Homo sapiens: one gene and its partners. The protein of the gene in region 1 interacts with the protein of each later gene in a biochemical or structural test. Each region holds a gene or a part of one and is shown on either strand. Other genes may lie near its edges. The genes, in order: CUL5, UBE2F, CBFB and CKB.

Region 1 (7,023 bases):
CAAGGAAAGAGTTTCTTAACCATTTTATATGTGTAGTCTTTTCTTTATTTTTCTTTTTTTTTTCCTTTTTTGAGACGGAGTTTTGCTCTTGTTGCCCAGGCTGGAGTGCAATGGCACGATCTCGGCTCACTGCAATCTCTGCCTCCCAGGTTTAAGCAATTCTCCTGCCTCAGCCTCCCGAGTAGCTGGGATTACAGGCACCCACCATGCCCGGCTAATTTTTAGTAGAGATGGGGTTTCTCTGTGTTGGTCAGGCTGGTCTTGAACTCCTGACCTCAGGTGATCCGCCCGCCTTAGCCTCCCAAAGTGCTGGGATTATAGGCTATGAGCCACCACGCCCAGCCATGTGTATTATTTTCTTAGGACAGAAATATACATGGATATATGCATTTAAAAGTCATCAGCATCATTCTTGTAGAGGAGCCTGAAAAAACCTTTTTTTTTGTTTTGTTTTGTTTTGTTTTGTGACAGTCTTGCTCTGTCGCCCAGACTACACTGCAGTGACATGATCAAGGCTTACTGCAGCCTTGACCTCCTGAGCTTAACTGACCCTCCCACCTCAGCCCCCCAACTCGCAGGGACCACAGAAAATTCTTTATTCGGAAAATTTTAAGCATTTTTACAATGTAGGAAGAACAGTATAATGAATCCCCATTACCTAAATTCAGCTTTAGTAGTTACCAACATTATGTCAATTCCAAAGGAATTTTTAATAAAAAATTTTTAAGGGACACATAATTGCCTCCCTTAATTTACAGATAGATGATTTGTTTTTCAGAAGAAATATATCAGCCTTATTGTACTTAACTTTAGTCCTCACAACCTATTAATTTCATCTGATCCCCAAAAGAGAAGTAAATAATTACATGACACGAGGGAGCAGAGATGACATGATATCTTCTGCCTCATTTAGATTTTCCTGATGGCCTCCTAGAGCACTAGACCCTTGCTATCTTACCTGAAATAGTTCAACAGCCTCGTTACCATATCCCAACCACCCACTCCTTACCACCTGCCTTACTACCATTATACTGATCTTTAATAATGACTTGAGGAGAGGAGAATCTCATTACATTTATCCTCTGTTTAAAACTTCCTTGGGGCCAGGCCTGATGGTTCACACCTGTAATCCCACACTTTGGGAGACTGACAGGGGGATCATGTGAGACCAGGAGTTTGTGACCAGCCTGGGGAACATAGCAAGACATCATCTCTACAGAAAAGTTTAAAAAATTAACCAGACTTGATAGTACATCCCTGTAGTCCTAGCTACTCAAGAGGCTGAGGCAGGAGGATCACTTGAGCCTAGGAGTTCAAGGCTGTAGTGAGGTATGATAGTAGCTATGTAGTAATGCCACTGTACTCCAGCTTGGGCAGCAGAGCAAGACTCTGTCTCTTAAACAAACAAAAAAACCTTCCTTTGTTCTTCCTTCCCTACCTATGAAATAAAACCCCAAATCATAGATTTTCATTCATAATCTGGTTGCAGCCTATCTTTCTAGCCTTCTCTTCCACTGTCTGTTTCTTCTCTACCATTTTAAGCTTCCTGGTATTCCTAGAATACGTAACCTATTTTAGGGCTTGTACTTACTTTACAGGATCCCATTTAGATACCAACTTGTGGATGAGGCCATTTTAACTACCCTAGAAAAAAGTAGTTTCTAAGTTTTTTTTTATTTTGTGTGTGTTTGTGTATGTGTGTGATGCCACTTAACTGAGTTATATTTAGTTAGCAGTGTAGGTTTACTGCCCTCCTCACTCTCAATTAGACAGTGATCTCTTCGAGAGCAGGAATTATATCTTATTCTTGTCTCTTAAATACTTCCTTAGTGCCTGCACGTAGTAGGCATCCAATAATGGTTTGTTGAATGAATGTATTCACACTTCTAGAATTTTATAACCTAATTTTAAAACAGGTTCTCTCCAGACAGGAAGAGTTAATCAAAGTTTGGTTTTGTATATTTTTCTCTCCCCTCCTTGAGGACTTTTGTTAAAATTTCTAAAGAGAGTCTAGTTCTATAGTTTTTTTCCTTAGGGGAAAATACACTTTGGTAAACTAGTATAGCATATCCATCTTCAATAATCCTATAGTTAAGGTAAGTGAAATCTACTTTCAGTATAATTTTTTTTTTGTTGAACAATATTGTTTTATTTTGTGAGTTAGAATAGATTTGTGCTATACAGCTTATAGTAGCCTTGACTAATTTTTGATATATTTCAGCTCATGGAATGCTGTGTAAATGCCCTGGTGACATCATTTAAAGAGACTATCTTAGCTGAGTGCCAAGGCATGATCAAGAGAAATGAAACTGAAAGTAGGTAAAACATCACATAAAGTTATCATAATCTTCTAAGAGGGTATCTTTGAAACAAATCACTTACTAAGTTGCTCTTAGTTAATTCTTTTCCACATAGGTATATGTGGAACTGTTAGAGTGAACTATACTTAAGGAAATAGATAAAATATTTAACACAGAGGCACTGCTAAGAGTATATAAACTTAAATTTTAAGCATTTTCCCTCTTAGCTATCAACATCTGTGTATGTGTATGGTGAATTTCTACTTTTTTCTCAAAAGCAAGACACTGCTTTTAAAGGCCAGTTTAAACTGGAAACATATGTTATAGATTAGAACCAGGTATTTGACTTTTGTGTGGAACCTTGTGATGAATCTTTTTAGAATGTAATAAAACACTCCCTGTTAATAGTCATCTCTGTCCCCCAAAATACTTTATAAGATTTCTAAAGGATTTTTTTATTACTTCAATGTTTTCTTAAAAAGATGTGTTTTGAGAGGTAGCAAGTATATAACAAACTAAAAAAAAAAATTGTACATATACCTACTACCCCAGTAAAACTGCTTTTAACATTTTTTTGCTTTTGTTTTTTAAATAACGTACTTCTACTGAGTTTCCAGGTTTTATTATATCTAACTGCAAGGTCCTGTTTAATCTCTAGTTGCATTTAAAGTGCATATTTCAATTCACTTAAGTTCATACACTTTTTAGGAGTAATTCAGTAGTAAAAAGCAAGCTGCTTTATTGGCGTAAACAAAATACTTGTATTCTGTGTGCCAGTCTAATTAGAGTTATGTCTGATCTATGTTGCACTCTTTTCAAAAGGATTTATTTAGTGGTAATCAGTACCGTGAGGTAGGGTTTTTGTGAAGGTCAATAAAATGGCATAACATGAAAAAGTGCTTTGTAAATTGAAAAATTATTTATGAATACAGTTTTATATTCTAATCTCTAATATAGTTGCTTTCGTAATTATTACTCATGTTTTTTACCTTTTGATGATATGGCTGTATATGTAGTATTACAACTACCTTATGAAATAAACTAATCTTGTGTGTAAATAAATATTCCTTTGCACTGAAAACCAAATGACTCACCTTTTCTTTTGAGACTGGGTCTCGCTGTGTTGCCCAACCTGGAATTCGATGGCACGATCACAATTCACTGTAGCCTTGACCTCCTGGGCTCAAGCGATCCTCCCACCTCCCAGCCCACTGAGTAGCTGGGACTACAGCCGTGTACCACCATGCCTGGCTAATTTTTGTATTTTTTGTAGAGGCAGAGCCCCACCTTGTTGCCCAGGCTGATCTCCACTGCTTCTGGCCAAATGACTGACCTTTTAAAGAAAGGAGTTGGGTTTTGCAGTATTTGATCACTTTTTTTATTTTTATTTTTTGAGACCGTCTTGCCCTGTCACCCAGGCTGAGTGCAATGGTGCAATCACGGCTCACTGCAGCCTCAGCCTCCTGGGCTTAGGCATTCCTCACACTTCAGCCTCCCAAGTATCTGGGACCAAAGACATGCACCACCACACCCAGCTAATTTTGTTTGTTTGTTTTTGTGTAACGATGGGTTTTGCCATGTTGCCCTGACTGGTCTTTTTAACTCCTGGGCTCAAATGATCCTCCCACCTTGGCCTCCCAAAGTGCTGGAGTTACAAGCGTGAACCACCACACCCAGCCTGATCACTTTTAATTCGATTTTTTTTTAAACATAATTTTTAGACTAAGTACAGTGGCTCATACCTATGATCCCAGCACTTTGAGAGACCAAGGCGAGAGGATTGTGTGAGCCCCGAAGTTTGAGACCAGCTTGGGCAACATTGGGAGACCCTGTCTCTACAAAATTACAAAAAACATTAGCCAGGCATGGTGACATGTGCCTGTGGTCCCAGCTACTCAGGAGGCTGAGATGGGAGGATTGCTTGCGCCCAAGAGGTCAAGGCTGCAGTGAGCCGTGATCGAGCCACTGTACTCCAGCTTGGGTGACAGACTGGGACCCTGTCTCAAAAACAAAAAAACAACAACAAAAAAACGAACAACTACTCCTAATGGCATTGTATCCACAGAATACTATTAACATTACAAACTTAACTAATGTTTCTCTAAACTCTTACTCTAGTAAATGAAATGATTACATGAATGTGTTCTCTCCTTCCAGAATTACATTTAATGTTTTCATTGATGGACAAAGTTCCTAATGGTATAGAGCCAATGTTGAAAGACTTGGAGGAACATATCATTAGTGCTGGCCTGGCAGATATGGTAGCAGCTGCTGAAACTATTACTACTGTAAGTTTTTTTTCAATGGCAATGATAGATATATATCAAGGCTATTTTTTAAATGTAGGATTATTGAAAATAGTGAGCGGTTACCAGAGGCTGGGGGTTGGGGGAGCAGAAGAGGTTGGTTAGTGGGGTATAAAGTTATAGTTCAATAGGAAGAATAAGTTTTGGTGTTCTATTACCCATTAGGGCGGATATAGCAAGTAACAATGTAGTGTATATTTCAAGATAGAAGAGATTTTTTATGTTGTTACCACAAAGAAATTATAAATGTTTGAAGTGATGGATATAGTAGTTACCCCAATTTGATCATTATAGTATATACATGCATTGAAATATAACATTGTACCCCATAATATGTACCATTATGTGTTGATTACAAATAAAAACATTAAATTTTTAAAAATACAGAATTGAAAATTGAAAATAGTAATTGAAATTACTATTTTCTCTGTAAAACAGGGAGCTGGGCAAGGTGGCTCACGCCTGTAATCCCAGCACTTTGGGAGGCCGAGGTGGGCAGATCACAAGGTCAGGAGATCGAGACTATCCTGGCTAACATGGTGAAACCCCTCTCTACTAAAAATACAAAAAAAATAGCCAGGCGGGGTGGCGGGCGCCTATAGTCCCAGCTACTTGGGAGGGTGAGGCAGGAGAATGGCGTGAACCCAGGAAGTGGAGCTTGCAGTGAGCCGAGAAGGTGCCACTGCACTCCAGCCTGGGCGACAGATCGAGACTCCGTCTCAAAAAAAAAAAAAGGAAGAAAGAAAAAAGAAGTGGCAAAACAGTAATATTGGAACACCTTTTAGTTTTATTTTTAAGAAAAAATATCCCCAGTTTTAAATGAGTTTTATTAAAATTATGTTTATTTTCTCATTTTTTTGTGTTATTCTTTTTCTTTTAAAAACTTAATGTAAAACCTTTTGTTTCTAGGACTCTGAGAAATACGTTGAGCAGTTACTTACACTATTTAATAGATTTAGTAAACTCGTCAAAGAAGCTTTTCAAGATGATCCACGATTTCTTACTGCAAGAGATAAGGTATATATTCCTATATATATAAAAAACACTTTTAAAAGTTTTATTCTCATAATTTACTTCTAATAATCAATTTGCATTATTTTTCTATTAATTATAAACTTAAAAACCTAGCAACTGTTATTTTTCATCAGTGGAGAACAACTATATTCGTTTTGTCTTGGCTGTAAGCATTTGTTAAACATTAGATAGCCTTGTGAATTAGAATTTAGTTAGAAAGTTGCTTTTTTCTCATTTTTCCAAGAATGTTTTTCTGTTTTTGAATATTACTGATCTATTGAATTCCTATTCATCCTTCCATTAAGACCCAGCTCAAAGAATACTTCCCCTGGAGCTTCCTTGATGTCCTGCCTCCCTCCACAGCTCATCACCAGCAGAGTTGATTCCTCCATCCTCCGTCCTTTCATGGGACTCCTTCGGGAGTTATGTTATACTTATCCTTGTTTCCCAGGGAAGCATTTGTATTGCATACCATCTTTTTCCATCCTCACTAGTATAGGATAATGATAATAAAACACCATACTGTCCTTAGCATTGTATCTTTTTTAGTGTAATAAACCTATAACAAGAAATTGCTGTTAGTTTTTTCTCTTCTTTGACTACCTTTCGTTACTTCCCAAGTTTGAATGATTCTAAAAAGACAACTTTCTCCATTCTCCAGTAGGATTTTTTTCTCACTCTTTTTGTCTATTTTAATTTTTTTTTTTTTTTTTTTTTGAGACTGAGTTTCGCTCTTGTTGCCCAGGCTTGAGTGCAATGGCATGATCTTGGCTCACTGCAACTTCTGCCTCCCAGGTTCAAGCGATTCTCCTGCCTCAGCCTCTCGAGTAGCTGGGATTACAGGGACCAACCACCATGCCCGGCTAATTTTTGTATTTTTACTACAGACGGGGTTTCACTGTGTTGGCCAGGCTGGTCTCGAACTCCTGACCTCAGGTGATGGGCCCGCCTCGGCCTCCCAAAGTGCTGGGATTACAGGCCTGAGCTACTGTGCCCAGACTCTTTTTGTCTATTTTAAAACAAGTAAATAGGCCAGGTGCAGTGGCTCACGCCTGTAACCAGCACTTTGGGAGGCCAGGGCGGGTGGATCACCTGAGGTCGGGAGTTCGAGATCAGCCTGATCAACATGGAGAAACCCCATCTCTACTAAAAATACGAAAAATTAGCTGGACGTGGTGGTACATGCGTGTAATTCCAGCTACTTAGGAGACTGAGGCAGGAGAATTGCTTGAACCCAGGAGGTGGAGGTTGTGGTGAGCTGAGATCGTGCCATTGCACTCCAGCCTGGGCAACAAGAGCGAAACTCTGTCTCAAAAAATAAATAAATAAAAATAAAACAAATAAGTAGGTAAAGTAGGAAAGGAGTTAAGGGAGTATAGACATGGTGGGCGTGGTGTGAAGTC
Region 2 (7,023 bases), on another chromosome or scaffold:
TAAAAACCAACCAATCCACCTACACAACTTTTCCAGCAGCCTTAGGAGGAGAAATCACTGATGCCTGACGTTCTGCCCATGCCAGGGATCAGGGACACAAGTCACAGCAGGCATGAAGCTCCGAGAGGCTGCCTGCCCTAAGTGCCCTGACATCTATCAGGACCATTTTGGTAGAGAGAGGGCAGCTTAAATACAAGTGCCCAAGGTCGTCTCAAGCCTGCCATCTACATTTTTTCTCCTGGGTATCTATCATTAATCATATTTTCTCATCTTAGCTAAAATCAGCCACATGGAGGGAATGTGGTCTCTCATGTAAATAGGAGGGGAACAAGGCAAGGGACTCCAAGGGTCCATCCTGGGCAGGCAAGGAGGCTGCACTAAGAACTTAGTAGGGCTGTGGCCCCCAGAGGGCCAAGAGAAGACACTCGTCTGGAGGCAGAAGGTAGGGTAGGGTTTGGGAGCAGGCAGGCAACCGCAGCTACTTCAGCTGAGTTCAAGCCCTTCCTAATCTTGGCCATGCCTCAAAATCTTTTCAGAGGAGACAACATGTTTAAAAGCCCAACGCTTGCACATGACACTCACGAATGTAGAAGAAAGAAAAGACAATAAACTCACCTCAGACATATTTCCCCTGTCTCTGTGATGTTGGGGTGCCAGATCTTGGTCAGGCATTTCACTTTGGGAGGCTGCAACACAGAGACAATGAGAGAGATCACGCCGACAGTCTCTGCAAATCACATCTCCAGGCCAGAGCCTTACCACATCCCCTATCTAGACGCTTGTTTCATGGCTGACTCAGTGTGCAGTTTGACTCGCTGAACACGTGTTCAACCCTGAATACTGGCTCACCTCACCCATGAGGCATGTGTTGATGCGCTGCATCCACAAGGGCTAGTCTCAGCAGCAAAGTCTACCCGTGGGCTTCTGAGCACCTCTCTACAAGCCCCATGTGTCCTGCCGGCTGACAGTGCTGGTGACTGGACCTCTGTCACCTCCCACACCCCCTGGGTTTGGGACTGCAGAAGGTATCCACAGTGCACTCTAAGGAATAGTTCTACATCCTCTGGGTCCAAATCCAATCAGAAGCCCCAGATTCCTTTGCAATACAAGTTACTATGGCTGAAAGTTACTGCTCCTTGCAAGAACAGCCTGTTCCATTTGCTGGATTTTTCTGAAGATGCTATTGTCACATACGTTTTCCTAGATGAAAGCCCTAGTCCACTTTACATTTAAAGGAGAGAAAGAGAATGAAAATGAATTTGTGGGGATAAAGTATATCAACATCATTTATGACTTGGCATGTTTGGATAAAGTTCTTTTAAGATTTTTCTAGTTTGGGCATGGTGGCTCACTTTGGGAGGCCACCTAAAAGAAGAAAATATAATTAATGATAGATACCCAGGAGAAAAAAATCTCAGCACTTTGGGAGGTCGAGGTGGGAGGATTGCTTGAGGCCAAGGGTTTAAGATTAGCCAGGGCAATATAGTAAGACCCTGTCTCTCCAGGGAAAAAAAAAGAGCTGGGCATGGTAGCTCCTGCTTGTAGTCCCAGCTACTCAGGAGGCTGAGGTGGGAAAATCACTTGAGCTCAGAAGTTGTAGGCTGCAGTGAGCTATGATCGCACCATTGTACTCCAGCCTGGGTGACAGAGCGAGTCCCTGCCTCCAAACCAGAAAACCAAACCAAACCAAACCAAACAGATTTCTCTGTTACAAAGGCAATCCATACTCAGAGAGAAAAGGACAACACAAATGAAAAGAAACATACGTAAATATCTAATAAATTCTGCTGTCTTTCACTTTTGTTTTTTATGTAAGAATATATACACTCCATCAAAATGCTACCCAGAAATTATGTGACACCTGATGTACATGTGTTTATGCCTCTTTTCTAGGCCACACACATAGTGTGCATGCAGCATACTCATTTTTCTTTATAGAAGAAAGCTGTGCTACATATGTTTTAGTTATTTCTGCCATCGTTTCAGATGGCATCCTGCATTCCATGGTACACCTGCCCGAGTTTAATAGGCACTTCCCTACCTCTGGGCCCTCAGGTTGCTTCCTCTTCTCCCAACCCTGCTCTATCAATGCAGGGTTCATCCTGGGTGAAATGTTTCCTCAGGATGAAGCCCAGGAAGAGGATCTGCTGGTCATAAACCCTAGCTTCTGATACACTGCTCATGTCCTTCAGAAGATGTGACACCCCGCCCGCCAACCCCACCACAACCTGCAGTAAGGGAGAGGGCCTCTTCTCCAGGACCTCCCACAGAAAGGTCCCCTTGGTTAATATGCAGAAGTGTCAAATCACAGGATCTCATCAGAAAGGTCATCTCAAAAAGGAATCAAACCTTTGTGAAATGGGTAACATTTTCCCTGTGTATCATCTGCTATTAACTTTTATTTATGATGCTTTCTGAGGAGTTTATTTTTGTAATCAAATTTTTATCTTTGATGCCATACTTAGAAAATACTTCACCATCCAAATATCCTCTTTAACTTTCTAGTAAACTTTTATAGTTTCATCTTTTTATTTATTTGTATAAAGCAAAAATACTTTTTCGACACTATAATGAGCATTCTTCCTAATTTCAAAATACCACAAAATCAGTAGATTCCAAAAAACTGATTAAACTGACTGTGCAAATCCATGTGTCTGAGGACAAAGAATTTAGGTTCAGAATGAGTTTAAATAAATTTCACATTGTGCTTTTCTACAAATAAATGGGAATGTATTTAATAGAAAGGAGGAACTGCATCTTTCCCTTCTACTGAGGCATTTGGGCTGCAGAGGGAAGGTCAGACTGCCATGAGGGGCAGGGCTCTGTGCCCCCTTCTGGGTCACTGGATGGTGGCAGGCTAGTGCTAGGCCAAGTCACCAACTCTCAGTTTTTGTAGGAACCTAGAAAATTGGCAAACTCACTCTCCCTCCCAAGCAGGTACCCCTTCTGCGGAGGCCCTCACACATGACCATGCAGCCTGGTGCTACCACATCTCCCAAAGGCTTGCGGGTATTCGCCCTTCCTCCTGTCCCCTTCACACCTTCCATAATTTGATGTTAACACAGATACCTCCTTTTGTCAACGGTCCTCTTAACTGTGGTTCCAGAACAGAGGGCAAAACTCTGCACCTGGCTTCTGACATACATACTTTCCAAACTGAATTAGGCCTGTAGCCCCTTCCCCCCAACCCCAGTGGCCCACAGCTAGACCAACAAGCAATGCCCAGCCCTCCCACATTCCCCCTCAGTGCTTGGCACGGCCACCATCACTCACCCTGCCAGAAGCCTAATGTATGACAAATCTGGCCTCTCAAACCAACAGAGAACTGGGTTATTTGGTGGGTCACTGGCTACCCATTTGGAAAAACACAGTGTTCCAAATGCATTAAAATTAAACATAAAAGAGAATTATAGGACTAGAAGAAAATGTAGATGACCATCTTGGGGTCTGAAGGCTGCTTTAAGCATATCATAACATACAAAACTCAAGCAGTGAAACAAAAAAACCAAACTTGTATAGAACAACGACTAAAGACGGCAAATGCAAAACAAAGAAAGTATTTACAGCATAGCTAAAAAACTGAAGAAAAAAGTTTCACATACTTTGCTTGTAAGGACTCTAGTAAATCTAGAAGAAAAACAAATATCCCCAATGGAAACATGGGCAAAGGACATAATAGCAGCTCATAAAAAATATAAACAGCTTATTAGTGGGAAATACTATTCAGCATCCGACTTAAGAAATGAAAATATAATGCTTGAATCCAGGAGGTGGAGGTTACAGTGAGCTGAGACTGTGCCACCGGACTCCAGCCTGGGGGACAGAGCAAGACTCTGTCTCCAAAAAAAAAAAGAAAAGAAAAGAAAAGAAAAAGAAATGACAATCGGATATTAAACGAGATACCATTTCCTCCCAAAATGGCAACAACAACAACAAAAAGGCAAATATTCTACCTTGGTAATTGCTTAGGGAAACGGAATTTTCAAACATGGATGGTGAGGATGCCAACTGGCATTCCTCTCTGCAAGGTAATTTAATAGGATTTATCCAGAACCTTAAAATGGAGCATCAATTACTCAATACCCATAATGCCATGTCTAGGAACTGATCCAGAGGAAAGAGGCAGACAGACATAAGATGCATGCCCCAGACTTACCTCACAGCCCTATTTATTCTGGGGCAGCAGACCACAGCCTACAGACCAAATCGAGGCTGGGACTGTTTTCACATGGTCAAAGACTGGTTTTTACATTTCTAAAAGGTTATTGAAAAAACAAAAAAGAATATGGGACAGAGACTATGTGGTCCACAGAGCCTAAAATATTTATTGCTTAGCCCTTTACAGAAAGTCTGCTTTATACTGCAAAAGGTTGGTCAACCAGTGACCAATGATAAAGGACTGGTTTAAATGATACATCATACAAGGAAGTGCTCTTATTAATAATGATGCAATTGTGCATTGACTGACATGAATGTGTACGTCCATCATATTATGACGGGAAAGCCCCAAGTTACCAGACTATGTGTAGCATCGCCCCATTGGTATGTGGAATTTATACTGTCTGCAACAGACATTAGAGAGTCAGGGTGATCATCTCTGGATGGAGAGATTACAGGTTATTATTATTCTATTTTTGCATGGCCGTGTTGTCTCAATTCCCTACAAAGTCTGATAATTTCATATGAAGAAGAAGGGAGAGTGGGAGTTCAGGTGTCACTTGTGGTCGTCATCACTGCTGTTCAACAAGTGTCTCTGGCTCTCCTCCTCCAGGGCCCATGGCAGGACTGGCCTTCCTTAGTCCCTCCGGGCTGGCCATGGTCATGTTATCTGATTTGGCCAACAACATGTGAGGAGACGTGGTGTCTTCACTTCCAGGAGGAAACCAGAGCCAAGAACAAAGAGCTGTAATCCTTTCTCCTGCTACAGCACACAGCTTCCTCCAACCAGTCCTGACCGACGCACCTGAGGGCTGTGTGACACCACAGGCCAGCTAGGGTCTGGGCTAAGGCTCTCTCCTCCTCCAAGGCATCCCCAGGCCATGTCACGTGCTCCTCCTCTGGGCGTCCCCACCAGCCTGAGGAATAGCCGTCACCCACATCACCACCCGGGCTCCTCATTGTCATGTCAGCGTCTGTCTCCCCAGAGACTGAAATTCTTAAAAGGCCACCAAGTTCCCATCCTTGGCCCTCCAGTGTCTGACACGGAGCCTGGCACAATGTAGGAGCCCACTAAATGTCACTACATCCGTTTGGACAGTTTCTAAACTGACAAATTACAAGGCAGGCTTTAGGCTGGGAGTTAAACTGCAGAGGCAAAGGAACAAAAACACAAAGAAAATTTGAATTTTGGCTGCTGGGATATTGGGTGGGGTGGGGGATTCCAAATGGACATTTTTCTTTTAAAAGTTTATTCTAAAATAACGATCGACTTTATTAAAGGTTTTCCACATTCACAGTCTTAATAACAGACCTTCACTGCAGGAACTGTAACTCTTAGGAGACAAGTCCTTATGAAGTACAGAAATTGTGTCAAGTCAGTCATGGCAGTGAAGCAGATGCACCCTGAGAAGCCCCAGCCCATCCCTAGGCTCCGCACTGGCTGCTGTATCCGTTCTCACTGACCCACCTGGTGCCCTCAGAGTGTGCCCTCACACTCTATCCTGAATGCCTGTGCCTATGTGATTTTCCTATGCTGACTGAATTATTTCATCTCTTTTCTACACTAAGTTTGTAGGGGGCAGAGAGAGGGGCAACCACTGAACAATTTGTGTTTTTGCCTAGCATGGCAGGCACAAGCTACACACCGGAAATAGTGTGGGCAAGACAGCTGGCACTCCCTCAGGGCTCACAGCCCAGTGGGAAAGAGATGCTCAGGAGAGTCTGTAAGCAATGATTCATTATAAATATGGCAAATGCAACTACTTTTGTGTTCAGCCAAGTACTACACCCTAATGATCCCCTGGAGACGCCCTGCTGGGGACACCAGTGACATATGCTGGCCCCTAGAAGTTGCCCCACACTTGCCTGAATGAGAGGCAGACAGGAAGAAAACAAGAGAAGGGAACAGGAGGCTGGGTTCAGTGGCTCATGGCTGGAATCCCAGTACTATGGGAGGCCAAGGCAGCGGATCACCTGAGGTCAGGAGTTCGAGACCAACCCGGCCAACATGGTGAAACCCCGTCTCTACTAAAACTACAAAAATTAGCCGGGTGTGGTGGCAGGCACCTGTAATCCCAGCTACTCCGGAGGCTGAGGCAGGAGAATTACTTGAATCCAGGTGGCAGAGGTTGCGGTGAGCTGAGATCATGCCATTGCACTCCAGCCTGGGTGACAAGAGTGAAACTCCATCTCATTAAAAAAAAAAAAAAAAAAAGGCTGAGCACAGTGGCTCCCCAGCACTTTGGGAGGCCGTGGCGGGCAGATCACCTGAGGTCGAGAGTTTGAGACCAGCCTGACCAACATGGAGAAACTCCGTCTCTACTAAAAATACAAAATTAGCTGGGCGTGGTGGTACATGCGTGTAATCCCAGCTCCTCAGGAGGTTGAGGCAGGACAATCACTTGAACCCGCAGGCAGAGGTTGTGGTGAGCTGAAATCGTGCTAGCCTGGGCAACAGAGTGAGACTCTGTATCAAAAAAAAGGCAGGGGGGACAGGAAGGAAACGCTGGGGAAAGGAGAGGAAAGGACCCTACAGAAGCAGGGTAGGAACATGGTTCATGCAGAGCCACCAGCTGCTCTCAGTACTTCTGGGTTTGAGAACATGGGGTTTTATTCCTGATGAAATCTGACCAGCCCATCATTTATGAAACTTCCAAAAGAGACAGCAGTGGAAATAGAAAAATGTAAGATCATCGTTACAGAGCTAAAGGTCAAACACAGCACACAGAACTTCAGAAAGGCTGCATGGGAATGATGTTTCCCCACAGGGACTAGTAGTGGGGAGGGGAGAGGGGGGCTGGGGAATAGCAGGTCTGAGACAAGGACAGGAAAATTTAAGCCTTACCCCTCCACCTCAACCTCTGT
Region 3 (7,039 bases), on another chromosome or scaffold:
TCAGCTTCAAGATGGTACAATATTTTCTCAGTAACTGAAGGGAAACTATTTCCTTAGAAAAAATGCATCAGAGGCTCAGAGACTTCCTCTGTGAGGAGAGGCAAAGGTGGGTGGCTGCTGACACCAGACCTGGATAAAACCATCCTTTCTGCTGGGCCTGCAGAGGCAGGACATCTAGACTTTGACCTTCCAAGCCAAGAAGGGACAAACAGGCTCAGAGATAGGAATGCACAGTCCTCAAGGGCAGACCCACATCCTGCCACAAGGCCCAAAATAGAACCCCTTTCTTCAACCTGTGGGGACCCTTCTAGAACATGGTGGGGTGCTCCCAGAGGAATAACCCCAGACATAGCCTTCTATGAGTTTGCAGTTCAGTGAGGGCAGCAGGCAGGACTTTTGGTATCTCCACTAGGTCTCAGAGTAGAATGATTAAAATCACCACCCTGGGGTCACTTAACCCCTGTGAATCTCCGTTGGCCCATCTGTAGAATAGGATCAATAATACTAAACTTACAGGGTTGTGGTGAGGAAGGAATGAAGATGATGTATCCCAATGCTTAGCTAGTTTCTTTAGAGTCGGGGGAGGGTCTCACTCTGTTGCCTAGGATGGCCTCAAACTCCTGGCCTCAAGTGATCCTCCCACTTCCACTTCCCAAACTACTGAGATTACAGGTGTGCACCACCATGCCCAGCCCCCATTTTGTTATTTCAAATGGATCAGGGTCTCGTCACTGTCCTTTTTTACTTTTACTTTTTTTTTTTTTTTTTTGAGGCAGAGTCTTGCTCTGTCACCCAGGCTGGAGTGCAGTGGTGCAATCTCGGCTCACTGAAACCTCTGCCTCCCGGGTTCAAGTGATTCTCCTGTCTCAGCCTCCAGAGTGGCTGGGATTACAGGCACACGCTGCCACGCACAGCTAATTTTTTGTATTTCCGTGGAGACCGGGTTTCACTGTGTTGCCCAGGCTGGTCTCGAGCTCCTGAGCTCAGGCAATCCACCCGCCTCAGCCTCCCAAAGTGCTAGGATTACAGACGTGAACCATCGCTCCTGGCCTTATTTACTTTTTCAAAGTCTGTTTCCTCATCTCTCAGGAGACAGAAGACCTGACTTAGAAGATGGTTGTGTGGGCCGGGCGCGGTGGCTCACGCCTGTAATCCCAGCACTTTGGGAGGCCAAGGCGGGCAGATTGCCTGAGGTTGGGAGTTCGAGACTAGCCTGCCCTTCTCTACTAAAAATACAAAAATTAGCTGGGCGTGGTGGCAGGCGCCTGTAATCCCAGCTACTCAGGAAGCTGAGGCAGGAGAATCGGTTAAACCCGGGAGGCAGAGGTTGCAGTGAGCCGAGATTGCACCATTGCACTCCAGCCTGGGCAACAGAGTGAGACTCCGTCTCAAAAAAAAAAAAGAAAGTGGTTGTGTGAATTAACTGTGATAAGGTGCATGAAGGCACCCTGAACAGAGCTTCACAGTTGCACTAGGCAAGTGAGGGTTCCTGCGCTCTCCTCAGCTTCATTGTGTATTATCTACTTACCCACCCAAGATCAGCTTTAGGAGCCTGCAGGAGCAGCCACCCACCTAGGAAGTTAGGGAGATACTCAAGAGGAGGCCCTTGGTTGGCTTGAATCCTTACGAAAGGAAGATTCCAGATGACCGGACTTCAGATAATTCAGTCAGGTTTTGGGACGGTGGGGGCAGATGTTTCTTGGCACAGAAAAGACACCTCTAAGCCTCCATGAGTGGGCCTTAGTAGAGCTGGATCTTAGCAAACCCCCTTAGCAAACACCCATAGCATGGTGTCTGGGCCAACCCATACCCAACTCAACAGCTGCCAAAGCTGTTAGGAGCACAGACTTAAGTGTACCTTACATGGGTGAAAATTTCCTTTATAAATTTCCTTTAATTCTGTTTTTTTAAATAAGTGAAAAAAAATTAACAACCAAAAAGGCATATAGAGGTCAGCCGAGGAGATGGCCTCCTTCAGCCTGTGGCTTATTTCCCGGTCATCCTGGCTGTTGGATGCCAGACTACGACGAGTGTGGGTTACCCTGTGGCCTGGAGTTGCCCAAGGCTGTCTGTGGGGCTGCTGTTCTGGGTCTGCTTGGCAGGCTTTGCTGTCCCTTTCCCTTAGGACATCGTTCCTCCCCTCCTTGAGGCTGACAATGAGAGCGCCCTGCCCTGCTCTGCACTCCCACCCCTCCAGGTCTAGCTCCCTTGACCCTGACCTTTTCCTTGCCTAAGCTCATGGCCATCAAGGCCATTCTAGAGATCTTTCAATTTTTATTTATTCCACATTTCCCATGGCAGAAACAATTATTGCTAGAGTCTTTGGCCAAGATCAACTTGGAGGTCTGTGAGCCCTCCTTGGACCCATTGTGGAGCAAGAGTGCTTCCTCATGGATTTTTTTTCCCCCCGAGACGGAGTTATGCTCTTGTTCCCCAGGCTGGGGTGCAATGGCACGATCTTGGCTCACCGCAACCTCTGCCTCCCAGGTTCAACCAATTCTCCTGCCTCAGCTTCCGAGTAGCTGTTTGAGACGGAGTCTTGCTCTGTGGCCCAGGCTGCAGTGCAGTGGCACCGTCTTGGCTCACTACAACCTCCGCCTCCCAGGTTCAAGCGATTCTCCTGCCTCAGCCTCCCGAGTAGCTGAGACTACAGGCGTGTGCCACCACACCCCGCTAATTTTTGTACTTTAGTAGAGATGGGGTTTTGCCATGTTGACCAGACCGGCCTCGAGCTCCTGATCTCAGGTGATCAGCCTGCCTCGGCCTCCCAAAGTGCTGGGATTAGGCCAGGCGCAGTGGCTCATGCCTGTAATCCCAGTACTTTGGGAGGCCGAGGCGGGCAGATCACCTGAGGTCAGGAGTTCGAGACCAGCCTGACCAACATGGCGAAACCCCGTCTCTACTAAAAATACAAAAAAATTAGCTGGGCGTGGTGGTGGGTGCCTGTAATTCCAAATACTCGGGAGACAGAGGCAGAAGAATCACTTGAACCCAGGAGGCGGAGGTTGCAGTGAGCCGAGATCGCGCCATTGCACTCCAGCCTGGGCGACAGAGCGAGGCTCTGTTTAAAAAAAAAAAAAAAAAAAAAAAAAAAAGAGGGCTGGGATTACGGGTATGAGCTACAGTGCCCGGCCACAGGACTAACTTTGAATCAAACTCTGCCATAAATCCCATGTCAGACTTTCTCCAGTTTGGGCTAAACAACTTCCCTAGAATTTATGGATCTTATTTTTTGCAGCTGATTGCACATTGAGTAAGTATATGGACTGGCAATCGGTTACATTCTTAACTCAGCTTGTTCTTCTTTAGAAACTTAAATTTATTGGGCTCCCACTGTGTGCTAGACCCACATAAAGGTTCTCACGCTAACACTGCAAACCTAGGAGTGTCTGCATTTTGGAAATAAGGAAACTGAGGTTTAGTGGTCCAATTCTTATCTAAGGCCCCAGCCAGCAGGTAGTGTAGCTGAGTGGGATCCCATCTAAGACCCATCTGACTCCAAAAGCCACGACCTTTCCACCATGACTCGGTTGGATTCTTTGGTCCGTTTCCACCTCAGTCTTCAACGTGCAGAGCCTACACCCCTGCCGGTCGGTTTAGGGACGAAAAGTCCCCAAGGACTTAGGTTTCCTCGCGTTCAAGTGACAATCTGGGGTTACTCCGCGCACCTGGGGAACCCAGAAGTTCCAGATGACCGAGGAAGGGCGGTAGAAAAGGCCTGCGCTGGCTACTCCCGTCTGCTAAAGGCCAGGCGGATCCCCCAACGACAGCTCCACGCCGAGTGGCCGCGGGCGAGCAGGGGGAAAAGGGCCCTGATGCGGAAGGAGCCCCGGGGCGCCACAGCCAGGCCGCTCCGCCAGCGGGCGGGTGGCGCATGCGCGGCGTGGGCCGCGGAGTTGTGAATGGTGCGTCTTGTTTGCCGGAGTTGGAGGCGGGCGGGCGCGCGAGGAGGAGGGGTGGGGCCGGCGGGGGCGGGGTGGGCGGTGAGAGGAAGTGGCGGCGGCGGCGGCGGCGGCGGCCGGGGGCGGTGAGCGCTGGGGCTGCGCGGGCGGCAGGCAACGGCTGAGGCGGCGGCGGCGGCGGCGGCGGCGTGGGTTGGGCTCGAGCGGGCGGCGGCGCCTCAGACTCCCCGGAACGGGAGCCCACGCGGGCGGGCGCCTGAAACAAAGGGAAGCGGGCGTCCGGGCGCCGCGGGTGGGCGGTCAGTCGGTCAGCGCGGAGCCAGCCAGCGGGTGCCCGCGCAAGCCCCGAGCGCGGCCGGCCGGCGCGGCCTCAGGGCGGGAAGATGCCGCGCGTCGTGCCCGACCAGAGAAGCAAGTTCGAGAACGAGGAGTTTTTTAGGAAGCTGAGCCGCGAGTGTGAGGTGAGGCAGGCGGGCGGGCGGCTAGGAGGCCGCAGCGCGCCCCGAGTGGGCCCGGGCGGAGAAAAGTTTGGGCGGCACGGTCCCCGGGAGTCCCGGTCGGTGCGCCCGCGGAGGGGCAATCTCGCCGGGGCGGCCATCGCCCGCAGCCTCTGCTTGCCCTTATCGGCGCTGCGCTGGGAGGGCGGGCGCGCGGGCGGCGCCGCGGATTTGGCTCCTGATTTCGGGCCGTCTTGCCTTGCAGATTAAGTACACGGGCTTCAGGGACCGGCCCCACGAGGAACGCCAGGCACGCTTCCAGAACGCCTGCCGCGACGGCCGCTCGGAAATCGTAAGTCGGCTGGCCCGGGGCGCGCGCGGGTCACTTGTTGCGCGGGGCCGCGGCGGCCCAGGCCGGTTCCGGACGGCGGCGCGGCTGCTGCGGCTCCCGGAACTGAGTGGGCGCCGTCTCACTTCCTACTCGGGATTCAAAATGCGAAACCAGATGCCGCGGGCCGGTACTCGCGGGGAGACGCTTTTCCTGGGGCTCGCCGCGGTGGCGCGTGTCGGCCAACGGAGCACCGCGAGTGGAGCTCGAACCCGAGCCAGACTAAACAAGCGAAGGGCATTGTTTAGGCGGCGACACCGAAGAAGGGTTCAGGGTATTTGTAGCAAGCAAACCCCCATTCGGAAAAAGAAGTGGAGCTTCATTCAAGGTCGGCGATAGTTTGTTTCTTAGAAGGTAGATCTGTCGGTAATTCTCTGTGTCAAGCGGTCTCACTACCAGATCGCCGAGTAGAAATCTTTCCTCCAGTTATTTATTCTAATAGAGAGGGGAGGGGGGGGAAAAGGCCCTAAAAATGTCATTTTCTTAGAATGTTAAGCTTCAGGAGAATCAGAAAGAAACCATTATCCCCATGTCCTGAGTAGGGCTGCTGTTCCTAAAAACTGCACAGATGGGCAAAACCCACGGTTGATCTCGAGGTCCTTGTTTTAGGAGGCAGATTTAGTGCGTCTTCACCAGACCTTGGGTTGAAAAAAAAAATCCAAGGGTCCTAGTTCCTCTCATCTTTTTGGTTTGCCTTGTTGGAGGTGCTGATGAGGAGGGAGTGGTAGGAAGAAACCAAGAAAAGAGGTTGATTATTACTATTTTTTTGAGGTAGAGTCTTGCTCTGTTGCCCAGGCTGGAGTACAGTGGCTCGATCTCGGGTCACTGCAACCTTCGCCTCCTGGGTTCAAGCGATTTTCCTGCCTCAGCCTCCTGAGTAGCTAGGATTACAGGTGCCTGCCACCACGCCCGGCTAATTTTTGCATTTTTAGTAGAGACGGGGTTTCACCTTGTTGGCCAAGCTGGCCTCCTGACCTCAAGTGATCCGCCCTCCTCGACCTCCCAGAGTGCTGGGATTACAGGCGTGAGCCACTGCGTCTGGCCTGATTATTTTTTAAAAAGTTGAAGCACTGTCTAATGGAATGCTGTTACTCTCTGCTCGGTGACTTGGACTCACTGCATTGTTAGAGGCTTGAAGCTAGGTGCGATTTGAATTTGGGTTAACAGTAGGAAGACATTGGAAATTTACTTCTCCCACCCCCTTTATAAAACCAGTTTATTTTTATTCAGATATAATTCATATGTCATAAAATTCTCCCTTTACATCACTGAACTCAAATTTATTTTTAAAGAATATTTTGATATTTTAAGTGAAAGCTTTTTAGAGTTGTAATAGTGAGAAGATACTGGTTAAATTTATCAGGAGCTCCTGAATATTTGGTCATTAGTGCATGTTATGAAAGAGAGTCTCAAGCTTTTAGCCCACTTGCAAATTTCTTGAGTAATTGTAGTATTTATATGATTGAAGTGCATAAGACATACTTTTAGGTTTTGGCACTGAGTGGTATAATAAAAGAATTCATTAGCTGGTGCGATGATCGTGTCATCCTTTGCCTGGGTTACCTTTTGCAAAGGGAAGGTGGTATACCTGACGATAGAATTTCCTGGAGGTAAAGGATGCAAGTATAAAAGATAAGTTACAAAGTACTTGTACTCTCACTGTTTGCTTTTTTGTTTTGAGACGGAGTCTCGCTCTGTTACCCAGGCTGGAAGCACAGCAGCATGATCTTGGCTCGCTGCAACCTTCGCCTCCTGGGTTAAAGCGATTCTCCTGCCTCAGCCTCCTGAGTAGCTGGGATTACAGGCACACACCACCACGCCCGGCTAATTTTTTTGTATTTTTAGTAGAGACGGGGTTTCACCATCTTGGCCAGGCTTGTTTTGAACTCCTGACCTTAAGTAATCCTCCCACCTCGGCCTTCCAAAGTGCTGGGATTACAGGTGTGAGCCACCGCGTCTGGTCTTGTTTCGTTTTTTTTTTTTAAGAGAGAGGTCTTGCTGTGTGGCCTAGGCTGGGGTGCAGTGGCTGTTCACAGGCACAATCATGAGGCACTACAGCCTCAAACTTCTGGGCTCAAGCGATCCTCTTGCCTCAGCCTCCCAATAGCTGGGACTACAGGCTCGGCGTCACCATACGCAGCCCCATGTGTTGTATTATCATCACTATCTTTGAAAGCTGAATTTTTTTGGAAATTTGGTGAATCATAGCTAGTAGGGTGTTTTCTGTCATCTCAGACTTTGCTGAATGGAATTATGAATTCAACCCATAGGATATCTGAAATGCTGTAATATTATAGTAGTAGTACAGGTGG
Region 4 (7,451 bases), on another chromosome or scaffold:
AGTTAGGAAGCAGCAGGGCTGGTGTCGGGTGTGGGCCGGGCTTCATTTCTGGGCAGGCATGAGGTCGTCGATGGCCTGGCCCTGCTCCAGCCGCTGCTCCATCTCGATGAGCAGCTTCACTCCGTCCACCACCATCTGCACCAGCTCCACCTCTGAGAAGCCCAGGCGGTCAGCGTTGGAGACGTCGAAGACCCCGCCCACCGCAGCCGTGTCCACACCGCCTGGGGAGACAGCAAGTCAGGGCGGAGGAAACAGGGCTGCCCAAAGGCCACGGGAAGCCGCAGCACCTGCCCTGCTCACCTGTGCCTCGCTTCTGAAGTCGCAGCCGCTTAAGCACCTCCGAGAACTTCTCATGCTTGCCCAGGTTGGGCAGCTTGATATGCACACCTGCCCGCAGCCCGGTGCCCAGGTTGGATGGGCAGGTGAGGATGTAGCCCAGGTGAGGGTTCCACATGAACTCATAGTCCTTAGACTTGAAGAGAGTTTCAATCTGCAGACGGAGAAGAGGGTATGAGGGAGAAGGCCTGCCTGAAACCCCTACAGGCCCTGAGACTCCCCAGTGCCGGAAATCCCCCGGGGGGACTGATGCTGGGGCACCCACATCCCTGCTGGGGCCCTGGGGTCTGGGCCTGCCCCGTCCCTGGCACCTGGGTGAGGCCGGTGCAGAAGCGGGTGAACACCTCCTTCATGTTGCCCCCCTTCTGCATGGAGATGACCCGCAGGTGGTCCTCCTCGTTGACCCACACCAGGAAGGTCTTATTGTCATTGTGCCTGCGGGAGGGCTGGTCTCAGGGCATACCCAGAAAAAAGCCCCAGGCCGCCCCCAGACCAAAGGAACTTCCCAAGTCCCTGAGGTGCTGCTCCCTGCCATGCCCAGGAGTGGAGGCTGCTGCCAAGACTCCACCCGCCAACACGGGGCGGGCGGGGGAACCGGGACGCCTCACAGCAGGAGAACCCCAGCTGCCATCATGCGCTGTGGCCTGAGGTGGGGCGGGGCCAGGGACCGCCAGGACAGCCCGACCCGCCCCCCACAGTGGGGGTAGGAGCCCTGCCCCTGGAGAAGCTTTGGCGTCACCAGCCCCTGGTAGAATCCCAGCGGCGGAGGAGTGAGAAAAGAAAACAAAGAGCTCCAGCTCCCAGGGCCGTCGGGGAGAGGCGCCAGAGAGCCCCGCCCCCACCTCACGTCTCGGGGTGGGGAGGTGTTGCTGAGTCCTGAGCCCCCACGGGCCGGGGCCCAGTCCCTTAACGCACCTGCTCGGCCAAGGTCACCGGCGCAGGAGGAGGCGCGGCACGGAACCCAGACCCGGAGCGCGGCCGGCCCCTCCCTCCTCCTCCTCCTCCTCCTCGCCGCGAGGGGCCCCACCCCCGCGAGGGGGGCGAGAGGGAAAGCGGAGGTAGCGGGGAGGGAGGACGCCGCGAGAGGGCGCAGAGGGACACGCACCAGATACCGCGGGCGTCGGGCCAGTCGCGGGCCATGCCCGAGGCCAGCAGCAGGGGCGACACGGGCTTGTCGAAGAGGAAGTGGTCGTCGATGAGCTGCTGCTGCTCCGCCTCCGTCATGCTCTTGAGCGCGTAGTATCGGCCCGCCAGGTCGCCGTCCAGGCTGGACAGGGCTGCGAGGGGTGCGCTCAGGACGCTCGGCTCCCGCGCCCGCCCCTCCAGCCCGCAGCGCGGACCCGCCCGCCCCCGTGCCCCACCTCGGGGGACGTCAGAGGGCCCCACCCGCCCGGATCTGCGGGCGTCCAGTCCTCACGGCCCGGGCGACGGTCCCAGGCGGTGACCCCGCGCCAGGACCCGCCCTCCCTGGGCCCCAGGCCGCTGTGGGCGCGGGGCTGGGCCTCCGTCCCTCGGTCCCTCCGGGAAACTGAACCCGGGCGCGCGCAGATAAGAGCGCGACGGCGGCTGCCGCTCCCGGGCGACGTAAACAAAAGCGGGCGGGGACCGCGCCGGGAGGGGGACGCGGCCGCCGCCGCCCCTCGGCCCGCCCGGCCCCTACCTTCCACCGCGAGCTTCTCGATGGCGCGGCGCTCCCCGCGGCTGCAGTGCGGGGGGAGGCAGAAGCCACGGATGCTGCGGCCCGTGCGCACCCGCGAGCTCAGCACGTAGTTGGGGTCCAGGTCGTCGCCGCCCTGGGAGGCGAGACGGGAGTGAGCGCCCGAAGACCCCGGCCCCGCCCGCCCGGCCCGCCCGCAGCCCCGCACCTGCAGGTTGTCGGGGTTGAGGTCGGTCTTGTGCTCATCGCTGGGCTTGTAGCCGCCGTGCCGGTCCTCGATGATGGGGTCGAAGAGATCCTTGAACACTTCGTAGGACTCCTCGTCGCCCGCCACGCAGCCCACGGTCATGATGTACGGGTGGCCTGGGGGAGGGGGCGCGGGACGGGGACAGTGACGTCACTGCCGGGCCCGAGCGCGCTGCTGAGGACCCTGCGGCTGCGCGGGGGGAGGGGGGGCCGGGACCCCGGCCCCGAGGGGTCGCGTACCCGGGTTGTCCACGCCTGTCTGGATGACGTCGTCCAGCGTGAAGCCGCTCGGCGTGCTCTTGGCGCGCAGCTCCGCGTACAGCTCGGGGGTCAGCACCTTGGCCATGTGGTTGTTGTGGGCGCTCAGGTCGGGGAACTCGTCCTCGGCCGGGAAGCGCAGCTTCAGTGCGTTGTGGCTGTTGGAGAAGGGCATGGCGGCGGCGGGCTGCGGGGAGACGCGGGGTCAGAGGGGACCGGCACGCCGGGGTTCCCGGGCTCCCGCGTACCACTCAGGCCCCCGCCGCCGGGCCCCCCGGCGCCCCCCGGGACGCGGCCAAGGTCAGCGGGGTCCGCAGCGCGCGCGGGGAGCGCCATCATCGCCGGGGACCCCCGGCCGGTCCGGCGCGCGCTCCAGGCGACGCGCCCCCTTTGCACGCAGCGCCCCTAGCCCGGGCGCGGACGCCCCCGGCCCCCGGGCCCACTCACCGGGCGGCCGGGCGGGGGCGGGGGCGCTCCGTCCGTCGGCAGCTCCCGGAGCGACGCAGGCGAACAGCGGCCGCTCCGCGCTCCCGCGGCTCTTAAGGGGCACAACGCGGGCCGCCCATTGGCGGCTATTTATAGCCCATTCATTCCATTGGCCCGCGCCGCGGGGTGGTGCCGCCGCTTTGTCCGCCGCCCGCAGCCCCCAACACCCTGGCCGCCCACCCGAGCTGTCCCCTCGCTGGGACCCCGCGCAGCCTGCCCAGTCCCCCGCCCAAGACCTCGAGGCCGAAACCTCAGGTCCTTGGATATCTGGATCCCCTCGCACGCCCTTGCCTCTGGGCGGGAAACTGAGGCGGAGAGCCTCCGGGCACTCGAGGACGCTTGGGTTCATCCGCATCCTCGAGCCTGCCCGCCTAGTCCAGCCAGCCCCCGCGGCGGCGGCGAGGGGCCGGGCGAAAGCTTTCGGGGCTTCCGCAGCAGGTACGGCCCCCGCCCCACCCCCGGCCAGTGCGAGCTGGCCCGGAGCCGCCGACCTTCCTCAAGGTGCCCGCAGGCGTTTCCTGGGCGATCCTGGTGCAAAGCGAAGGCGCGCGGGAAGCGCAGTCTGGCTGCGGCCCAGCCCGGGGGCACCCGCGGTGCCCTGACCTTGGACAAGTCCTGGGTCTCGGGGGGCTGCGAGCCAGAAACCACGGGGACGCTGTGGCCTTAAGAGGCCGCTGGCAAGTGCAGCCTCGGAGTTTCCAGACCCCAACCCTGGGCCCTCTTCGCAGGGGACAAGTTTACCCGACCCCCAAAGGCAGTCCCCGGAGACTTCAGGCAAAGATGGGAGGAAACGCTAATAAACAATAAGCATAAGTGCGATTAAAAAAAAAAACTGATCTCACGAATAACCAGAATCATGCAAATTAAGCAGTGACTCCACCTGCCCCTACCCCCAACACTCCCAGATCGACCCCAGCCATTGCTGGCTTTGAGCTGGAATGCGGGAAGACAGGCGTCCACACGCTGCCTGCAACTTAAATTGCTGCATGCTTTTTGCAAGATAATTTGGCAGAATCTATTAACGTTAACAATGTTCGAACTCCGTGACCCAGCAATCTCCCCTTCTAGGAATGCAGCCCTTAGAAAGGATGTCTCAGTTCTCTCCACTAATGGACCAAGAGATCTGTGGAGGGAAAAACAAACATAACTGGATACAACCCGATGCCCCATCAGGCGGGAGTGGCCAAGGGTAGGGAGGCATCTGCTTGCTGTGGAATATTATGCAGCTGTTAAGAGGGGGAAGTGGAGGATGTGGGGTTAATATCCATCAGGGACCCTCATCTGTTGCTCTGTGAATAAAGCAAAGAAGGGGGGAACTCTTATCTGTGGGTATATTTGATACAAATCCCTCCAGCAGTGGCACAATGAGCACCTAACAGGTGCCAGCCGCTGGGGATACAGCAGGCAGCGAGGTACACAGCGCCTGCTGCTGGAAGAAGACTGGCCATGAGCCAGCAGCCCAACAAACCAGATGACATCAGATCGGTGCTGCTGGGGCCAGGGGGACACAGAGCAGTGGCGTTCCAGGTATAAGGGACCCCGAATAGGTGCCTCAGAGCAGAAGGCACCAGAGCCAAGGCCCAAAGGCAGGGGAAGCCTGTTCGCCTCTGCCTATGTGAGCATCGGTGTGGGGGCCTTTTCTCCTGTCTCATCCCCATGGTCACTGCAGAGGAGACACATGCCTCTTTGCTCCTTGGCATGCTTCGTCCTGTTCCAAGCCAGCATTTTTTAGACTTAATAAAACCAACCCATGTAAAAAGGCAAACGGCCCCTCTGGGCTGGCCAGACAGCAGGTGTCCCTTAAGCCTGGAATTCCTGCACTCTGTGCCCCGTGCAGCCTCTTCGCCCAGTTTTAGAAATTTCTGCAGCTGCCCACCTGCTACCCCACAAAACCTGAAGGGCTTAAGTTTCTGTTTCTGGAAGGGATAGCTGCAGCCCCTGGAGGCAGACTTGGGGGGAGGGAGAGACTTGGGGGCCACACTCAGGACTTCCTCTGTCTTCAGCAACTGCAGCTTCTCAGAAGGCCAACCCTCCCCTCTCTCACCCTCCTGGCTGAGAGCCTAACCTGCTTCCCAGGTCCCCCATGGGAAAGGACCCCCTTTCCCCTTTCCTGAAGGGGGCAGCCCCTCCCCCCAACACCTGTGGTTATTTCTCGTCAGGTGGGATGAGACTGAGAAAAGAAATAAGACACAGAGACAAAGTATAGCGAAAGAACAGTGGGCCCAGGGAACTGGTGCCAGCATATGGAGGACCCGCGCCGGCACTGGTCTCTGAGTTCCTTCAGTATTTATTGATCACTATTTCTACTATTTCAGTGAGGGGGATGTGGCAGGACTTTAGGGTAATGGTGGGGAGAGGGTCAGCAGGAAAACATGTGAGCAAAGGTCTCTGTGTCATAAATAAGTTTAAGGAAAGGTGCTGTGCCTGGATGTGCACGTAGGCCAGATTTATGTCTGACTTTACACAAACATCTCAGTGCAGTAAAGAGCGGTATTGCCGCCAGCATGTCTCACCTCCAGCCATAAGGCAGTTTTCTCGTATCTCAGTAAATAGAATGTACAATCGGGTTTTACACCGAGACATTCCATTCCCAGGGAGGAGCAGGAGATAGATGCTTTCCTCCTATCTCAACTGCAAAGAGGCCTTCCTCTTTCACTAATCCTCCTCAGCACAGACCCTTTACGGGTGTTGGGCTGGGGGATGGTCAGGTTTTTCCCTTGTCACGAGGCCATATCTCAGGCTGTCTCAGTCGGGGGAAACCTTGGACAACACCCAGGCTTTCTTGGGCAGAGGTCCCTGCGGCCTTCCGCAGTGCATCGTGTCCCTGGGTACTCAAGACTGGAGAATGGCGATGGCTTTCACCAAGCACACTGCCTGCAAACACATTTTAACACAGCACGTCCTGCACAGCCCTAAACCCATTAAACCTTGAGTCAACACAGCACATGTTTCTGCGAGCACAGGGTTGGGGCTAGGGTTACAGATTAACAGCATCTCAAGGCAGAAGAATTTTTCTTAGTACAGAACAAAATGGAGTTTCTTATGTCCACTTCTTTCTACATAGACACAGTAGCAGTCTGATCTCTTTCTTTCCCCTACACTTTCCCTCCACAGGCAAGGTCAGAACTGCAGATATGAGATCCAGAGGGCAGGGCTGCCTATGGCAAGCAGTGAGCCTGGCACTGGGGCGGCTCCGGCCTGGCGCCGCTGGTAACCCTCAGCTTTCTGAGGTGGGTGTTTTTGTCCCCAGTGTGCAGACAGAAGATCATTTTATTTTTGTTTTTATTCTGTTGAGACAGGGATCTTGCTGTGTTGGCCAGGCTGGTCTCAACGTGCAGATAGATCAGAAGTTGGGTGACAGAGGTGTCCAGTCATGGGCCCAGCAATCCTTCCACCCTCCCAGAGCGCCGGCCCTGTGCGAGCCTGCCTGGGGCAAAATGACAGTGTACGGGGGCCAGGCAGCTGTGACGGGGACAGCAGCAGCAGATAACAGTGGGGAGGTGGCCCTCAAGGCCTTCAGACCTAAATGTCAGGGTGAGACCCCCCAGGCAGGGGCTGATTGGGAGCCTTAGTGTCCCCCAGAGCAGGTGCACAAGGAGAGGGGCTTGGAAGGTGCCAGCCTCCCCTCCAGCTGACCTCCCCTGTCCACAGCCCCTGCTCTCCCTGGGGCCCACAGGGGCTGCTTTGGCAGCATCCAGGCAGGAGGCTGCATGACGTTACCAGGCCAGTGTTTGGTCCAGGTTCCTCAGAAATCACACCTGGTTACACGTGAACCACTGGGCCTGGAGGGGGCTTCAAAGGAGGCCCAGGTCTTTTATCCACAGAACATGACCCGGCTCAGCAGGTCAGGCACAGGGCAGACTCCAGGCAGGGCACTGGACTCTATCCTTGTAGTCTGCTCCTCTGCAGAGTGCAGCCAGAGGCAGCATTGCTTCCTCCCAGTGCCCTGCCCCTGAGTTCTGCAGAGCCCGAAGAGGAAGCGGGCTGAGGTCAGGAGAGGGACAGGGGCTGACTGGGGATCACAGAGCACAGTGGGGTAGGAGGCTGTGCTGCTTAGAGGGGAGGGACTGCAGTCACGTGGTCCCTGCCAGGGATTTGGGCACAGCAGCCTCCCCAGTGGGCATCCTTCCTGCCTGTTCCCACCTTTCTTCAAATCAGCCATTGGTTCTCTGAAGCCGGTTTACTGGCTTTAATTCTTAATTAAGAGATAGGGTCTTGCTATGTTGTCCAGGCAGAACTCCAACTCCTGGCCTCAAGCAGTCCTCCCTCTTCAGCCTCCTCAGTGCTGAGCTTTGGGGGTTTATTGGCTTTAAATCCTAATCCCACTTTGACCTCACTGGCTGTGACTTCAGGCAAGTTATTTAACATCTCTGAGTTTCAGTTTCCCCATCTGTAAAGTGTTCCCTCCCTCCTAGGATCCTGGGGAGAAGTCAATGAGATGGCACAGCTGGGCATATACAGCATCAGC

What was found.
Region 2: of the proteins of CUL5 (region 1) and UBE2F, one has a biochemical effect on the other in vitro, tested with the Homo sapiens proteins (2 studies listed by BioGRID).
Region 3: the proteins of CUL5 (region 1) and CBFB form a complex in vitro, tested with the Homo sapiens proteins (4 studies listed by BioGRID).
Region 4: of the proteins of CUL5 (region 1) and CKB, one has a biochemical effect on the other in vitro, tested with the Homo sapiens proteins (one study listed by BioGRID).

Annotation. Positions count from the first base shown.
Region 1 is NC_000011.10:108,067,875-108,074,897, forward strand, and holds part of CUL5 (cullin-5), read left to right. Parts: intron 1-2,221; coding exon 2,222-2,315; intron 2,316-4,457; coding exon 4,458-4,588; intron 4,589-5,515; coding exon 5,516-5,623; intron 5,624-5,925; coding exon of another isoform or gene 5,926-6,003; exon of another isoform or gene 6,004-6,192; intron 6,193-7,023. UniProt on the Homo sapiens protein: Core component of multiple cullin-5-RING E3 ubiquitin-protein ligase complexes (ECS complexes, also named CRL5 complexes), which mediate the ubiquitination and subsequent proteasomal degradation of target proteins.
Region 2 is NC_000002.12:238,019,005-238,026,027, reverse strand, and holds part of UBE2F (NEDD8-conjugating enzyme UBE2F), read right to left. Parts: intron 687-7,023; coding exon 616-686; intron 1-615. UniProt on the Homo sapiens protein: Accepts the ubiquitin-like protein NEDD8 from the UBA3-NAE1 E1 complex and catalyzes its covalent attachment to other proteins. Together with the E3 ubiquitin ligase RNF7/RBX2, specifically neddylates cullin-5 (CUL5).
Region 3 is NC_000016.10:67,025,123-67,032,161, forward strand, and holds the start of CBFB (core-binding factor subunit beta), read left to right. Parts: upstream 1-4,026; 5' UTR 4,027-4,285; coding exon 4,286-4,363; intron 4,364-4,604; coding exon 4,605-4,691; intron 4,692-7,039. UniProt on the Homo sapiens protein: Forms the heterodimeric complex core-binding factor (CBF) with RUNX family proteins (RUNX1, RUNX2, and RUNX3).
Region 4 is NC_000014.9:103,519,822-103,527,272, forward strand, and holds the start of CKB (creatine kinase B-type), read right to left. Parts: upstream 3,010-7,451; 5' UTR 2,945-3,009; intron 2,685-2,944; 5' UTR 2,673-2,684; coding exon 2,480-2,672; intron 2,357-2,479; coding exon 2,202-2,356; coding exon of another isoform or gene 2,130-2,201; coding exon 1,997-2,129; intron 1,614-1,996; coding exon 1,442-1,613; intron 772-1,441; coding exon 648-771; intron 491-647; coding exon 301-490; intron 222-300; coding exon 43-221; 3' UTR 1-42. UniProt on the Homo sapiens protein: Reversibly catalyzes the transfer of phosphate between ATP and various phosphogens (e.g. creatine phosphate).